2 separate regions of the Homo sapiens genome follow, and region 2 is linked to region 1. The links come from fine-mapping of genetic effects on gene expression. A gene starts in region 1. The other region holds a variant in brackets. All regions are shown on one strand. Distances are from middle to middle.

Region 1 (2,904 bases):
TTTTTGACAAGTACTTCAAATTTTTAAAATACTGTGGGAGCCTCACAAACATTTTTGTGTCCTGTCTGGTTCGTTGGTCACCAGTTTGCGCCCCCTAGATGCGCACTGGATCAGTAGTGGGTTTGTCATGTTCTGAAGCTCTCAAGGCTGCTTTGAAGCCTCAGTTTGTCGTGTGTGCAGGCGAGGACCCGGGCAGGTGGGTGAGTCCCGCTTGGGCGCTGCCTGGGTGTGCTCTGCTCCAGCATGCGTCGGTCGAGAGTGAGTGAGAATACGTCTGTGAGCGGTCAGGTGAACCGGGTCTGACCTGCCCAGGTAAGGTGGTGGAAGAATAGGAAATGGCCCTGTGAAAAAAAAATTTCTGCTAATTGGTCTCCAGACGCCTGCAGTCTCCCCCAGCCTCTTCTCTGGGACCAGGCAGCCACCCACCTGCTATGACCAGCCCGGGGAGGGGACGGGACTGGCTCTGGTGTCTCTTCTGGTCCGGGCACAACTGGATTCAGCACTAATGACGGACTCTACCCCAGCGGAGCGCTGGACCCTGGCAGGAGTCGCAGGCTGCCCGCTGCTGGCCCGCGGACCGGCACCCCCTCCCCCAAAGCTGTTGCCATGGCCACAGGGGACATTTGATGTGAAGCGCGGCTCCCCCCTCTCCACTCGCTTTCTCCGCTCGCCTTCAGGATGACGTCATGAACATCCGTGGCCCTGACAGGCCACCCGTGGGTTGGTCTCAGCTTTAAAGCAGCTGTTCTCCTCTGGCCCGGCAGCCGCGGCGACTGTGTTTGCACCCGGCGGACCATGCCAGGACTACGGACCCGGACAGGACTGATGGCCTCAGAGAGGCAAGTATTCAAGGGGCACTTCACAAACAGCTTCCTCAAACCCCACCCCCTCCCCCGCACTGCGCTGCTACTTGCACTGCGGCTCCTGGGGGGAAGCAAAGTACCGGCAGCTGGGTGGTGAGGGGCTTTCTTCCAGAAAGAAACGGAGAGCAAGTGGTCTTCCTCCCTAGCCGCGGCGACCCATGCCAGGTAAAAATCCCAGCCGAGGTCCCCGGTCCCGTCCCCTCCTCCAGGTCAAGGGCTCGGGACTGGAGAAGCAGCCAACTGGAGCTGATATTCGGGAAGCTAAGCCTGAGGCTGCTCTGGAGGGCCGGAGAAGCGAGCGGCCAGGCTTGGCACCCGCCAAATGTGCCTTGCCAAAATGAAGAGGAAGGAAGGCGACTCCGGAGCCCAGCAGGTGAGCGCTCCTACGGGATGCTGGGCAGGCTAGAGGTGTGGGGGCGTCTGGTTCCAGTACCTGCCCGGGGCGACGCGGAAACCCAGCTTGCAGTTTGTTTCGCTCGGTCCCGCGCCCAGTAGGAGAAAGACGGCCCCACAGCCTCGCGGGAGCCGGCTCTCGCAACCCAGCCGCCCCAAGCCCGCCGTCGCCCCTCCTCCCGCGCTTCTCGCCCCTGATTCTAGATGCAGCTGACTTGTTGCATGCAGAAGAGCAGCTGGGTTCGGCGTTCCAAGCCTCTCCTCTTTGCTTTGCCTGCCACCAGATCTGAGCGCCAGGCTGGCCAGCACCCAGAGAGCCCAGAGCCGCAGGAAAAAATGTGAAAAGTACCAGGAGACCACTGGGTAATCGCCCCAGTGCAAAGGGCCTTTCTTCCTACCCACCGCAATTGCAGCAAATAACTCCAGGGAGGGGAATCAGAGGCGCCGGGGATTGCGCCCTGGGAGAGCCCTATCTGCTGAAAGAGAGCGCCTAATGCCGTTACTTCCCAGTGTAGCCTTTCCACTCGGCAGACCAAGCGCCTCTCCTTCGAGTCGCTACCCGCTTGGAGTCGGCTCAGAATCAGGCTGCTAAAGGTCCCTGGAGCCCCTCCCCCAGCGAATCCGAGCCTGCAGCTTCAGCACCAGAGGCTGGACAGCGCCCCGGCCCTAGGGTGCCCATGGTCGGTGCCTGCGCACGGCTCGGCCTCCCAGCCCACGCCACTTGCGCTCGCGGCCCCTCAGACCCCACGCGGAGGAGGTCAGGAGGTGACACAGGTTCGCGGAAGAAAGCGGGACTCATCTTCCTCATTTCTCCAGGGATTTAGGTGTGGGATTCTAGGAGAGCATTCTCTCTCGCTCTGGCCACGACCAGTGGAAAAACTTGGCGCCAAATTTAGGCAGTGGTGCGGGGAGCAGAGGCACGATTGCAGGCGGTGAGCAAAGGGGCAAGCGGGACAGAGGATCTACTGTGAGCCCCAGGCTCTGGTGTTCCGTGAAAAATCGCCACATTTAAATCCTGCGCTCCCCCGTGCTCCCTCTCGCTCTCTCCCCCTTCCTTTTTCCCTTCCTTCCTTCCTCCCCGCGCTCTCTGTATGCCTTAATAGGAGTGAGTGAAAGGGAAAGAGTGGGGTGGAGGGAGAAGATATTGAAGCCGAGGTAAGAAGCACATTTTATCTAGGTCTCAAAACTCAAGCGTGGATGAAATCTGTTCAAAAAGAACATCAAGGTACGCGTTTTTTTACCCAAAGGAGCCCAAAGTGACCTTTGTATGAGGAGCAAAGATTATTGTTTGGCCAAGAAGGGGAAAGATAGCGGAGGGAGAGGCGCTATCACAAAAGGGCTAACGGAGGTGGAGAAGGAAGGGAAAGGACTTGGCACTAGCATGCTTACCAGGCAACCAGTCGCAGCACCTGCCTCCTGTTGCCTTGGTTACGGTGGGTGGCGGGGCTTTGGCCACTGATAATCAGTGAGCACCTTGACTATTTAAAATATCTCCTGGGGAGCCCCTGCCTTGTCTGGGCTAGGTGAGAGGCACATCGATCCCGCGTAAGGCCCCGTCTGGGGAAATCCTGGAAGATGTTTGTTTTTTGTTTGTTTGTTTTTATTTTAAGTAAAGGCGCATAGCAGAGCAACTTACCTTTCCACCACT
Region 2 (2,904 bases), 34 kb before region 1:
AATAACAGCAAAAAATGGTAGGTTTAGAAAAATGTTGTTTTCAAGCTGCTTGTTATTTCCCTTCTCCCTCAAAACAAGGTCATTCATGGCCGTTGTCAGTGAAAACAAATTATGTTTCCTTCATTCTGCAGCCCAGAGACATTGTGTTCTGCTCAACTCAATCCAGCTCAGTAAGGTCTTTATGTGAACATCTTCCCTGCGAAGGTCACCTGCCTAAATGCTAGGGCTGTGGGGTGAGGGAAGGAGACACAAGCAAAAACAAGGGGAGCCCTTGTCTTCAGATTGACTGGAATATAAGGATGAGGAAGGGAATTAGGTTAGAAAGAAAGATGTAGGAATCTTTAGAAGAGTCTCTATGCTAGGACTTGCTCTGCAGGTAGTGAAAAGTGAGGGTGTGATAGGATTAGAGTTGGTTCTTAGGAAGATCATTCCAGGAGCAGTGGGAGGACAGGCAAGAAGAGTGGAGTCAGGAAGGTGAGAGAGCCCACAGACTGGCCCATGCTTCCAGGGGAGGAGAGCAAGGCTGGGGAAGGACAGCAGTAAGTGCAGCCAAGGAGCCCCCTCTTATTGGCCAGCAGGCTTCTCTTAAGTGTGGCAGGCAGGGAACAGGCTAACTCACCCTGTCTTCATGCCTGAAAGAAGAATGCACCCTAGGGCAGTGGTTCCCAACCTTGGCTGCCCAGTGGGCTCAACTGAGGAGCTTTAAAAATACTAGGTCCTGGGTCCCATCCCCAGATAGTCTAATTTAATAGATTTGGGGTATTTTGGAGCTTTCAGAGGATTCTAATGTGTGATCAAGTTTGAGAGCCACTGCTTTAGAGCACCATCAAACACACGAGGAGTCCACGCTCCTGGTCCCCAGGCAAGATCTCATGCTTCTGCCTAGAAGAGATGCTGAGCAGCTGGTCACTCTTTTTATTGGGCTCTGAATTTGAAGCTTTTCTGGGGATGTGACAACTATGTCCTCTGCAGCATTGAGAGCACTCAGCTACTTTGGCTCAGTACTACTGATGGCGTTCTGCCTTCTGATCTCTCCTCCTGTGTTCCTCATCACTATGTGTCCACTTCCTTCTGTATGTCCATGCCTTTACCATGCAATTTTGGGAGGGGCAGGAAGAAACCACATGTGTTCAGGGTAACATCTTGACCTGGAAACTCCTTTCTGTCTTTTATGGGAACAGGGGTGCCGGGGAGATTCTGGGCCTTGGGGACATCCAGTCTTCCTAGTCCTCAATGGCTGAATACAGGAAAAAGACATCATTTTAGGTATATTTATAAAGCAGCTGAGCTCTGTCTCAAGATGGCTAGGATGAGCATTTGGAATAAAAAGTTGATATTTGCGATATGTAACCAATACCCGCAGTAATTAGGCATGAAGTTTGGCCACCTCTTCTATGGGTGAGGCCACCCAGAGTTATTC[T/G]TGTCTTTCCTCCACCCCATTGAGCATCTCCGATGTGACAAAACTAAAATGCTAGAGGCCTGGGTCCAGCACATGAGGCCAGAAAAGAGTGTAGGTACCTGGGAATGTCAGTGCCATTCAGTGTGACCACAGTAAGGGCAATCACCCGGGCAGCTCTCCCAGGAATCTGTCCTTGTGGCCAGCCAGTGGGGTGACTTTCCAGAGTCCATTCCCCTGCCAGTCTATAAGTGGCAAGCTTGGGAGACAGACAGCCAAGGTCCTTTTAGGGATGTGGCTAGCAACCTCTGCCAGAAACCTAGCATGGGTCAGAGGGATAGTCAGCTGCTGTGAACCACTAGATGCCCTGTCACCAACATGGGGCAAGTTGAAGAGGTAGGAAGAGGGAAGGGAGCAGTGGGGACGCCTTCCCCTGCCACTTTCACAAATCATTACTATCTGCTGGGGGCTGGGCCCCACAGTGCATCTGATAAGGTTGTTAAGTCAGCCGGAACACCTGCCCGGCCATCTGGCACTTTTATCCTCTAGACCGGGCCACACAGGCCTCTTTGCCCACCTCCTCAAAGGCAGTGGGCTGCAGGGGTCCCAGGACACCTGCTGGGGAGAATGAGTGTCCCCCAGCCACCCCACCGCCAAGCCCCAGGTGCTGCAAGGCAGCATTCTGGGTCCTCAGGTAACACTTCAGAAATCCTTCTTTATTTTTTTGAGAGATGGCTCCCTAGCAGCAATGTAGCAGGGGTGGGGGCCCCCGCTAAGGCTGCCTGGAGTTTAAACACAGGTTGATTCTGACCTCACTGAGATAACAGAGCAATGTAGTAGTGAGGCTGGAACAGGGAGAATTTAACCACGGCTTTTTCTTCTCTTCATATCAGACTAAATTGGAGCAGCAGCCCAGGGATCATTAATCATCTCAAATGCTGGGCTTCAGAATCTTATCTCCAGTATAATCACCTCATCCCCTCTTCTGGGCTCTGGAAACCATAGCATTTGAGGAGAAAGCACAGTACCTATGTTAGCAGATCTTGTTAGGCGCTATCTAGCAGCACGTGACCCGTTAATGTATATGTTTAGCTGTTCCAATTGAGTTCTGATTTGTGTTAAGAAAAACACAACTGGGGTTGCTGGAAATGTTCTGTATCCTGGCCCAGATGATGGTTATACATTTATAAAACACCATCAAGCTCTACACTTAAGTGTCCTTTATCCATGTTCTCTCTGTCTCTCTCGCTATCTCTTCCTTATCCTTCTATTAATAAGTTTTTTGAAGAAAAATAGGCCGTGTGCAGTGGCTCACGCCTGTAATCACAGCACTTTGGGAGGCCGAGGCAGGTGGATCTCCTGATGTCAGGAGTTTGAGACTAGGCTGGCCAACATGGTGAAACCCCGTCTCTACTAAAAATACAAAAAATTAGCCAAGTGTGGTGGAGCATGCCTGTAATCTCAGCTACTTCGGAGGCTGAGGCAGGAGAATTGCTTGAACCCGGCAG

Direction of the effects. Positions count from the first base shown, and alleles are read on the strand shown. Sizes are in standard deviations (SD) of each study's normalised expression.
In carriers of allele T in region 2, the expression in thyroid of the gene that starts at base 1,190 in region 1 tends to be lower than with G alone (moderate effect, 0.72 SD a copy in GTEx).

Evidence for each region. PIP is the estimated chance that this variant, and not a neighbour inherited with it, causes the effect.
Region 2: its variant is fine-mapped to the expression of LINC01586 in thyroid (GTEx, PIP 0.95).

The regions. Positions count from the first base shown.
Region 1 is chr15:88,603,921-88,606,824 of GRCh38, forward strand. LINC01586 (long intergenic non-protein coding RNA 1586) reads right to left here and starts at 1,190. Exons shown (of 3, transcript NR_120370.1): 1 at 944-1,190. It also overlaps a transcript of AEN not described here. RefSeq lists an enhancer at 450-1,156 and a silencer at 1,870-2,307.
Region 2 is chr15:88,569,732-88,572,635 of GRCh38, forward strand. No RefSeq gene overlaps it. Among named protein-coding and RNA genes, the nearest start is that of DET1, 25 kb to the left of the region's middle. The variant T/G (reference allele first, on the strand shown) is at 1,421.